2 separate regions of the Homo sapiens genome follow, and region 1 is linked to region 2. The links come from fine-mapping of genetic effects on gene expression. A gene starts in region 2. The other region holds a variant in brackets. All regions are shown on one strand. Distances are between the middles of the regions. Region 1 holds the start of LOC124902313. Region 2 holds the start of FUT7 (fucosyltransferase 7).

Evidence for each region.
Region 1: its variant is fine-mapped to the expression of FUT7 in whole blood (TOPMed, PIP above 0.99).

What each region holds. Positions count from the first base shown.
Region 1 is chr9:137,097,542-137,102,910 of GRCh38, reverse strand. MAN1B1 (mannosidase alpha class 1B member 1) reads right to left here. Exons shown (of 13, transcript NM_016219.5): 5 at 4,974-5,083; 6 at 3,030-3,215; 7 at 1,758-1,906; 8 at 1,239-1,427. LOC124902313 reads right to left here and starts at 1,232. Exons shown (of 3, transcript XM_047424371.1): 1 at 999-1,232. The variant A/G (reference allele first, on the strand shown) is at 2,135.
Region 2 is chr9:137,028,937-137,034,305 of GRCh38, reverse strand. FUT7 (fucosyltransferase 7) reads left to right here and starts at 2,218. Exons shown (of 2, transcript NM_004479.4): 1 at 2,218-2,327; 2 at 2,581-4,132. The coding sequence starts at 2,315. The coding sequence ends at 3,596. LINC02908 (long intergenic non-protein coding RNA 2908) reads right to left here. Exons shown (of 3, transcript NR_171031.1): 2 at 1,075-2,308. RefSeq lists enhancers at 2,074-2,183, 5,184-5,369.

The DNA of each region.
Region 1 (5,369 bases), 69 kb before region 2:
TAACACCACTGACCTGCACGCCTGCAACAGCATGAATGTAACACCACCGACCTGCACGCCTGCAACAGTGTGAATGTGTGTAACACCACCGACCTGCACGCCTGCAACAGCATGAATGTGTGTAACACCACCGACCTGCACGCCTGCAAGTGTGAATGTAACACCACCGACCTGCACGCCTGCAACAGCATGAATGTGTGTAACAGCACCGACCTGCATGTCTGCAACAGTGTGAATGTGTGTAACACCACCGACCTGCACGCCAGCAACAGCGTGAATGTAACACCACCGACCTGCACGCTTGCAACAGCGTGAATGTAACAGCACCGACCTGCACATCTGCAACAGCGTGAATGTGTGTAACACCACCGACCTGCACGCCTGCAACAGCGTGAATGTGTGTAACACTGACCTGCACGCCTGCAACAGAATGAATGTGTGTAACACCACCGACCTGCACGCCTGCAACAGTGTGAATGTAACACCACCAACCTGCACGCCTGCAACAGCGTGTGTAACAGCACTGACCTGCACGTCTGCAACAGCGTGAATGTAACACCACCGACCTGCACGCCTGCAACAGCGTGAATGTGTAACACCACCGACCTGCACGCCTGCAACAGTGAATGTGTGTAACACCACCGACCTATACTCCTGCAACAGCATGAATGTGTGTACCACCACCGACCTGCACACCTGCAACAGCACGTGTAACACCACCGACCTGTACTCCTGCAACAGCAGGAATGTGTGTAACAGCACCGACCTGCACGCCTGCAACAGCGTGAATGTAACACCACCGACCTGCACGCCTGCAACAGCATGTAACACCACCGACCTGTACTCCTGCAACAGCATGTGTGTAACAGCACCAACCTGCACGCCTGCAACAGCATGAATGTGTGTAACACCACCGACCTGTACTCCTGCAACAGCATGTGTGTAACACCACTGACCTGTACGCCTGCAACAGCCCAAATGTGTGTAACACCACCGACCTGCACGCCTGCAACAGTGTGAATGTGTGTAACACCACCGACCTGCACGCCTGCAACAGCGTGAATGTAACACCACCGACCACGCCTGGAAATGGTTAAGGTGGTGCGTTTTGTGTGTTTTATCACAGTAAAAAACCTGAAAACACACATGCACATACACACACACACACAGTACCTGCTGTGATGAGCAAAAGGTAGCTCCAGGGGAGGCGCATCCAGCCAGAAAGCCTGCCCCCTTACCTGAAACTTCTTATCCCCTGTGAGACGGGAGAGCTCCCGGAACTCCAGCTGAATGCTGGTCACCTCGGCCACAGTGCTGTCGGAGGTCCACCGTGGCGGGTGGGCAACTCCAGTACCGATGTTCACATCCGAGTAAGGAATCTTGGATGGTGTTCTGAAGGCAGGCATTAGCCGATTTCCAAAATCCTCCTGGTATATGAGCAGAGTAGAGAACCAACGTTCAGGTCACCCAGAGGCCTCGTCTACACCCTTTCATGCAGTTCAGTGGAGACACTGAAGGCTCTCTGGGGTCAACACAGCAGCAAGGAAACGGGCATCACTCTGCACTGAGTGAATGTCTCTACAAGGCCAGTGGTGATCAAAGTGGCTTCATCAGCTCACGAATATGAGCTCAGAAACAGACTCCAGTGCATTTGAAGAGGAAACAGGAAGACAGTCACGTCCCCACAAGTCCACTAAAGGGGTAACTGCTTGAATGCGAGTCCACCATCTCCCTGCAGGACACCCCAAGACACTTACAGCTTTCCTCAGGAAGAGGCTGTCCCCAGACAGGTGGTAGGCACTCAGGAGCCCCCCCAGGATGCGGATCGTGCTCTCAAACAGGTTGACGTCCACGTCCTTTTCAAAGTGTAACTTCTTCGACACCCACTTCCTGGCTTCCTCAAATTCTATGACATAAAACAGTAAAGGATGCAGAGACAAATGGATGGCTCCAACGTTTTCCTATTATCTATCCATCTTCAAAATACATTTGGCTGGGCGTGGTGGCTCATGCCTGTAATCCCAGCACTTTGGGAGGCTGAGGCAAGTGGATTGCTTGAGCCCAGGAGTTAGAGACCAGCCTGGACAACATGGGAAAACCCCATCTCTACTAAAAACACAAAAATTAGCTGAGT[A/G]TGGTGGCGCATGCCTGTGGTCCCAACTACTGGGGAGGGTGAGGCATGAGAATAGCTTGAACCCGGGAGGCGAAGGCTGCAGTGAACTGAGATCGTGCCACTGCACTCCAGCCTGGGCCACACCACTAGACTCTGTCTCCAAAAAACCCACGTTTGAAACCAGGAGGCCAAGGTTGCAATGAGCCGAGATTGCGCCATTGCACTCCAGCCCAGGAGACAGTGAAAGACTCCATCTCAAAAACAAAAAAACAAAAACAAAAAACCAAACCCATGTCTGGGGCGTTATCGTTCCCCTGCAGGGCTTCAATATCACCTCCTATCTCAAGGGGGTAAATCTTGAAGTCGTCAACATTTGTTAATAAAACGGAGTCAGCAGTGCAGTTGCTATGGCCACCAATGGGTCACAACCAAAGGCTACGACCCAAAAAAATTACACACGTCGTTTACTGGTGGTCTTCAACCTATTCAAAAAATTAGGCAAATGTTTAAATTATCGCTTAAATAACCGAAGACACATACTCCCAATTCAAAGTGGATGTGCTGGTCTATGAAGGATGCTGCTGAGATCTGGGACCAGCGGGGCCCCACAGTCACTCATCCCACCACCCCCAGCTGCAAGAGAAGCACAGCCTGGGAATGTCCCTTGGACGTCCCCCAAAGAGTCCACACTCAACTCCTGCAGAGGTCTGGGGACAGCGGCCCTGTGTGTGCCTTGGGTGGCTGGACAAGAACAGGAACTGACCACAGCCAACACGTCCACTCCCGCACCCAGGAGAAGGGAAAACCCATGGTCAGATGCAAACAGCAGCTTTCACCCCGTGTGCAACCCACACTCTGCCTCAGCACACGAGGCCCACACGGAGGGCTCAGCCCCTCCCCAGAAAGCACCAGGTACCTTTCCTCAGACCCAAGATCCACATGGTGTCCAGCGCGTCGATCAGTGTGAGACCGAGGCCAAACCACTCACTGAAGGACCTGGACACAGGCTTCAGCTCGTCATGGCCCCATGCAAACTTGCGGTATCCTTTCCATGCATGCAGGAAGACGTCAATCACGCCCTTCTGGCGATAGTTCAGATGCACTAGTAGGGGGGAGAGAGCACAGGCCATGGCGGACGTGGTCCTGGCGTCGGCACAGATGGACACCCTCAGGCAGAGCACTGCTGTGACCCCCATGGGGCAAAGATGACGGTGGGTTTGGGACGACGGGAAGGGCGGTGGTGGGCACAGCAAAGGCCAGGGCCACAGAGGCTGCAGCAGCCCCCAGGGAGAACACAGCCTGCCAAGGGCCTGAGACCTCTGGAGACTGCACAGGATGGCACCTGTCACCCGACCACCTGACTGGGGCCCATGCACCTCCACCTGGCGCCTGGGCAGGCACACCCTCCTTGGGCCTCGGTGGCCTCTGGCCAAAGGGACAAGGGTGGCTGCCCCAAGGGCGCTGGGACAGCACAGTGAGCACAGCCTGTGGAGACGTGGGTGAGTGTGGTGCCAACTCAGAATGTGAAACACGGACGGGTGCAGACCTCGCGATGAACATCCTCGACTCAAACACGCTCCTTCTGCCACGTGGGCTTCAGGTGCTCCACGGGAATCGCACTGTGCACACGCGCTACAGTCCCTTCGTTCCCTTTTTTTAAATTTTTTTGGCTGGGCACGGTGGCTCCCGCCTGTAATCCCAGTACTCTGGGAGGCCGAGGTGGGCAGATCACCTGAGGTCAGAAGTTTGAGACCAGCCTCGCCAACATCGCGAAACCCCGTCTCTACTAAAAATACAAAAATTAGCCAGGTGTGGTGGCGGGTGCCTATAATCCCAGCTACTAGGGAGGCTGAGGCAGGAGACTTGCTTGAACCCAGAAGGCAGACGTTGCAGTGAAGTGACAAAGCAAGACTCTGTCTCAAATATACACATATATATAAATTTCTTTTTTTTTTGTAGAGATGGGGCCTCACTGTGTTGTCCAGGCTGGTCTTGAACTCCTGGACTCAAGAGATCCTTCTACCTCAGCCTCCCAAAGTGCTGGGATTACAAGTGTGAGCCACCACGCCCGGCCAACATTGACTAATGTGTGGATTGACACGTGTGTAACGGCACCAAACCACACGTCCTCTCAGGAAAGGTTCTGAGGCCTCCTTGTGCTCATGGCATGTCTATGCCTCTGCCTCTGCCTCTGCCCTCATTGATGCCGCAGAGATTGCTACACATCCCTCACAGGCCCGGGGCTGGGAGTCCTGGCTCTGGGCTCCCTCCCCACCTCAGAGACACCTGGGGGGCATGATGAGAGCAGGGCTCCAGACTCAGCGACCTGCCATGAGCCCCCACAGACAAGCAAACGACTCTGGGGGTGGCTGTCCTCAGCCCTGCTTTTCAGTCTGGAGAACGGGAGGGTGAGTGGCTTATCGTGTCAGAGGGTGTCATGAGGTTGAAAGAGGCCTCAGGTCATGCACTGAGCTTGGCCGAAGGCCCGCACCTGGGAGGCCCCCAACAAACGGTGCTGAGAATGAAGTGGCCCCCAGAGCTGCCTGGGACTGGCCAGGCCGAGACAGGGGACACAGCACGGGCAGCAGTCTCCAGGGATCCCGTGGGGCAGCCTGGCCCAGACACAAACCTCTCAGACACACCTTCTTCTGCAGCCATGTGCTCAGGGACAGCAGGCCAAGAGCCACATGGTGTCACCAAGGTTGCAGAGCCTGTGAGGACTCAGACAACAGGGGGATGCTGAAGGGCAAGGTGCACACCAGGGCGGGGGCGCCACCCACCATGGCTGAGACGAAGCCTGCACCCATCAGCCACCAGCCCCTGAGCGCCCGGGGAGGAAGGGGTGCAGGTGTGGCCTCACCTGGTGTGCCCTGTGTCCTGGCCGGTGGCAGGGGAGGCTTGGTGGGCACTTCTGCTCTTCTTGAAGGGAGCTCGGTGCCCTGCTCAGGCTCGATCACCGCTCCCCTCCAGCTTCGGGGGAGAAGGAAGGGTGTCAGCTGCCGTCAAACATTTGTGGCTCCATGTTTCCCACCCCCACGCTCCATACCCACGGCCAAGGCACAGCCCTGCACCCAAAGCGGCCCCATCATCCTGAGGTGCAGGCTGCTGAGTGGCAGGAAACACACAGTTCAGTCCTGAGCTCCCGTGCCTGAGAGCCAAGACCACAGCACTGCTCCAGGGTCAAGGCTGGCCTGAGGTCAGAGACCAGAGCTTGGAGAATCGTGAGAAATCCCTCTGCAGAGGCCGGAGGCGGGGG
Region 2 (5,369 bases):
CTCCAAGTCCCCCTCCCTCCAGCCCCCCTCCCTCCAGCCGTTGCACAAGTTCCGCAGCAAAGCTCAGCTCAGAGGCTACACTGCGCCACAGGGGTGGGGGCCTCTGACTACCACCCTGTCCCAGTCTTGCCTCTGTCCCCACAGTGGGATCCTCCCACTTCAGTCTCCAGCTGCCTGGTTCCCCTCCCAAGGCAGCCTTGTCCTCACTGTGGGGCCGGGGAGAGGCCAGCAGCCCCTGGGGCCCAAAAGTAGAACAGGACAGGGACAGGGGTGGTGGGAGGCAGGCCCCCTCTGAGGGTGCTGGGGCAAAGGTCTGGACAACAGTTCATGGTTGCCATTCCTCCCAGGACACACGATCTGAGCCCCCAAAAGACCTGACAGGACAGACGCGTCCTCATTCCCAGCATCCCAGCATTTTGGGAGGCCGAGGTGGGAGGACTGCTTGAGCCAGGAGTTTGAAACTAGCCTGGACAACATAACAAGACTCTGCCTCTACAAAAAATTTTAAAAAATTAACCAGGCATGGTAGTGCACACCCATAGACCCAGCTCCTTGGGAGGCTGAGGTGGGAGCATTGCTTGAGCCCAGGAGGTTGAGGCTGCAGCAAACCGTGACTGCGCCACTGCACTCCAGCCTGGGCAACAGAGCAAGACCCTGTCTCAAAAAACAAAAAACAAAAACCCACACACAAAAAAGCAAACTTGGCTGGGCGCGGTGGCTCATGCCTGTAATCCCAACACTTTGGGAGGCTGAAACTTGTGGATCACCTGAAGTCAGGAGTTTGAGACCAGCCTGGCCAACATGGGAAAACCCCATCTCTACTAAAAATACAAAAATTAGCTGGGCGTGGTGGCAGGCACCCATAATCCCAGCTACTTGGGAGGCTGAGACAGGAGAATCACTTGAACCCGGAAGGTGGAGGTTGCAGTGAGCCAAGATCGCACCACTTGATCCTGACTTCAGGTGATCCACAAGCCTTGGCCTCCCAAAATGCTGGGATTACAGCCTGGGCGATAGTGCAAGACTCCCTCTCAAAAAACAAACAAACAAACAAACAAACAAACCAAGCCTGACCTGCATTGAGATCTCCAGGACGTCTGGGTCTGGCCACGCCTGGGACCACACAAGGTCCCGTGCAGCAGAGTGGCAACGTGGTTGGGTGAAGAGGCTGATGGGGCCTCCCACTGTGGCTGAGAGTGGGGTGTTGGTTGGCTGGGGCTCAGGGTGACCCCGCAGGGCCATCCCAGCCTGGCTGGCACCCAACGTGGGCTGGTGTAGAAGAAGGAACCTGGCCTCCAGGCTCCAGGCCCTGGCTTAGAGGGAGCGGGGAGTCTGGACTTCAGGCTGGATCCCTTCCTCTTCCTGGAGCGGGTGCTGGCCCCCAACCCGCTTGCGTCAGGGACAAAAGGACTCCTTCCCTTTCCAGCCTGGAAAGCCCCTCTGCTGCAGGCTGGAGGAAGGGACCCTGGGCCCAGCCTATAGTCAGCGGTGTCTATGGGCATGGATCTGGACGGGGAAAAGGACAAAGCAGCCTCCATCCACAGTTCATTCCGGGACCAGGCCCTTGCAGGCACGCGCTGGGCTCCTGTGGGAAGACACTAAGGGCCCCAGGACAGACCTCCTCTCCGGGCATCTGGGTTCCTAGATGGCAGAGGTGGCAGAGTGGGGTGGGATGGCCCAATTGGGAGCTTTAGCTTCCGGCAAAGAGCTGAGCACAGTACATCTTCAATGTGTAAGATTCTCCTGGGAGACCAGGGCCCAGCTGGTGGTGAGCTGGGGGAAGTGGGTGATACTGCCGTGGGAGGAGCCACCTGGCCCTCTGGGGAAGTGCACTCGCTGTCTGCAGCGCCCAGGCCTGGGTAGCTGGGTGGGGGCTGGGGGGCCATCTGTGCTCAGGGTGCCTGCACCTGGGCCTTCTCTGCCCTGGGCCAAGCCTGCCCGAGCCTCTCTGTCCTCTGCCTGCCCAGCTGGACATCTCTGGGCCTCTCTGGAGACCAGTGGGGTGGGCTGTGGGGGCGTCATATTGCCCTGGCTTGGCATCCCTCTTGTGGCTGTACCCCTCCCAGCAGCCCCAGGACTAGCAAGTCCCCGAGATGGGGGTGGGGACAGTGGTTGATGCCAAAGGTTGTGGGGGCAGGGGCGGGGCAGGAGCAGGAAGGTCCCCTGAGTTCCCTCACCTTGGGCAGAGATAAAAGGAGCACAGTTCCAGGCGGGGCTGAGCTAGGGCGTAGCTGTGATTTCAGGGGCACCTCTGGCGGCTGCCGTGATTTGAGAATCTCGGGTCTCTTGGCTGACTGATCCTGGGAGACTGTGGATGAATAATGCTGGTGAGTGTCTGGCCCTCGGGGAGGCCCAAGCTGGGGACAGCTAGGCAACCTGGGAGGGGAGGACGGGGGTGGCGCTGAGTGGGGCATGTCGGTGTCCCTGAGCCCATGGGAGGGGAGGACGGGGGTGGCGCTGAGTGGGGCATGTGGGTGTCCCTGAGCCCATGGGAGGGGAGGACGGGGTTGGCGCTGAGTGGGGCGTGTGGATGTCCCTGAGCCCAAGTGACAGAGCCTCCCCTCCCTCGTGCTGCTGCAGGGCACGGCCCCACCCGGAGGCTGCGAGGCTTGGGGGTCCTGGCCGGGGTGGCTCTGCTCGCTGCCCTCTGGCTCCTGTGGCTGCTGGGGTCAGCCCCTCGGGGTACCCCGGCACCCCAGCCCACGATCACCATCCTTGTCTGGCACTGGCCCTTCACTGACCAGCCCCCAGAGCTGCCCAGCGACACCTGCACCCGCTACGGCATCGCCCGCTGCCACCTGAGTGCCAACCGAAGCCTGCTGGCCAGCGCCGACGCCGTGGTCTTCCACCACCGCGAGCTGCAGACCCGGCGGTCCCACCTGCCCCTGGCCCAGCGGCCGCGAGGGCAGCCCTGGGTGTGGGCCTCCATGGAGTCTCCTAGCCACACCCACGGCCTCAGCCACCTCCGAGGCATCTTCAACTGGGTGCTGAGCTACCGGCGCGACTCGGACATCTTTGTGCCCTATGGCCGCCTGGAGCCCCACTGGGGGCCCTCGCCACCGCTGCCAGCCAAGAGCAGGGTGGCCGCCTGGGTGGTCAGCAACTTCCAGGAGCGGCAGCTGCGTGCCAGGCTGTACCGGCAGCTGGCGCCTCATCTGCGGGTGGATGTCTTTGGCCGTGCCAATGGACGGCCACTGTGCGCCAGCTGCCTGGTGCCCACCGTGGCCCAGTACCGCTTCTACCTGTCCTTTGAGAACTCTCAGCACCGCGACTACATTACGGAGAAATTCTGGCGCAACGCACTGGTGGCTGGCACTGTGCCAGTGGTGCTGGGGCCCCCACGGGCCACCTATGAGGCCTTCGTGCCGGCTGACGCCTTCGTGCATGTGGATGACTTTGGCTCAGCCCGAGAGCTGGCGGCTTTCCTCACTGGCATGAATGAGAGCCGATACCAACGCTTCTTTGCCTGGCGTGACAGGCTCCGCGTGCGACTGTTCACCGACTGGCGGGAACGTTTCTGTGCCATCTGTGACCGCTACCCACACCTACCCCGCAGCCAAGTCTATGAGGACCTTGAGGGTTGGTTTCAGGCCTGAGATCCGCTGGCCGGGGGAGGTGGGTGTGGGTGGAAGGGCTGGGTGTCGAAATCAAACCACCAGGCATCCGGCCCTTACCGGCAAGCAGCGGGCTAACGGGAGGCTGGGCACAGAGGTCAGGAAGCAGGGGTGGGGGGTGCAGGTGGGCACTGGAGCATGCAGAGGAGGTGAGAGTGGGAGGGAGGTAACGGGTGCCTGCTGCGGCAGACGGGAGGGGAAAGGCTGCCGAGGACCCTCCCCACCCTGAACAAATCTTGGGTGGGTGAAGGCCTGGCTGGAAGAGGGTGAAAGGCAGGGCCCTTGGGGCTGGGGGGCACCCCAGCCTGAAGTTTGTGGGGGCCAAACCTGGGACCCCGAGCTTCCTCGGTAGCAGAGGCCCTGTGGTCCCCGAGACACAGGCACGGGTCCCTGCCACGTCCATAGTTCTGAGGTCCCTGTGTGTAGGCTGGGGCGGGGCCCAGGAGACCACGGGGAGCAAACCAGCTTGTTCTGGGCTCAGGGAGGGAGGGCGGTGGACAATAAACATCTGAGCAGTGCCTCGTGGGTCTGGCCAGTGTCTCATGGGTCACCTCCGTGCAGGGCCACAGAGCCTGCATCTGCCCTCCCCTGACATGTCGCCCCCACGGCCATGGGGCTGCTTGTTCCCCACGGGGGGTCCTGTCGCCTGACTTCTGGGCCTTTGCTCACCCTCCGCCTGAGAGCCCTCCCTGTGCCGGGCTGCCCACTGGCTACCCCAGTTCCTACAGCCTCCGCCAGACGGCCCCTTATCAGAGAGCCTTCTGTGTCCCCCAAAAGGCCAAGGCGATGAGCCCAGGAGTTCGAGACCAGCCTGGGCAGTGTAGTGAAATCTCATCTCTACCAAAAATACAAGAATTAGCAGGGCGTGGTGGCTCACGCTTGTGGTCTCAGCTACTTGGGATACTGAGGTGAGAGGATGGCTTGAGCCCAGGAGGTTGAAGCTTCAGTGAGCCGTGATCACACCACAGCACTCCAGCCTGGGCAACAGAATGAGACCCTGTCTCAAAACAAAAACCAAAACAGGCCAAGGTTGGGGAAGAGTAGGGAACGGACGTCAGAGGCCTGGCCAGGCTGAAATCGCCCATCTCCCAGGCCCGCAGGCTGGAGGGTGTCTGGGGTGACAGGGTCTGACCTGTGCCTTGTAGCTCCCTCTGGTGGCCAGTGCTGGGGAGGCACTGGGGATGCGGCTGCAGCCAGGGAGCCCCTGTAGTGGACGGTGGAGAGTGGGGCGAGGAGGAGAGAGGCCAACCCACGGGTGGTGCTGACCAGGGCCCCAACAGGCTAAGCCCCCGGGGCTGGGGCACAGGGCTTGTCCCTACCCCAGGTAGGGGTGGGCAGGTTGAGGGCAGGAAGCCCCCCTCACCCATGGCTGTGGCTTGTGGGAAAGACCTGCTGGTAGCTTCCTGCCCTGACCCAGCCCTGTGGACTGAGCAGAGAAAAGCAAGTGCCTTGAGGCTGCGGGCTGGGGTGGGAAGCTGATCCCTCACTCACTAGCCCAGGGTCACCTTCCTGCTGCAAAGGAGCTGGGAGGAGTGGGGAGCTGTGGCCTCGGAGGTCTTCATTCACTTGAGGATGCGCCTTCTATGTGCGCCCTGACACTGGACACCACACAGCGCTACTCCACCCCATTCACAGGGGGGAAACTGAGTCTGGGAAGCGCCGTCAGAGCCACCCATGGGGTCAGCCTGTCCTCTGTCGCTCTCTACAGGCCACGCGGAGGAACTGCCCCACCTCCCGGGGCGCCCCAGCAGGTGC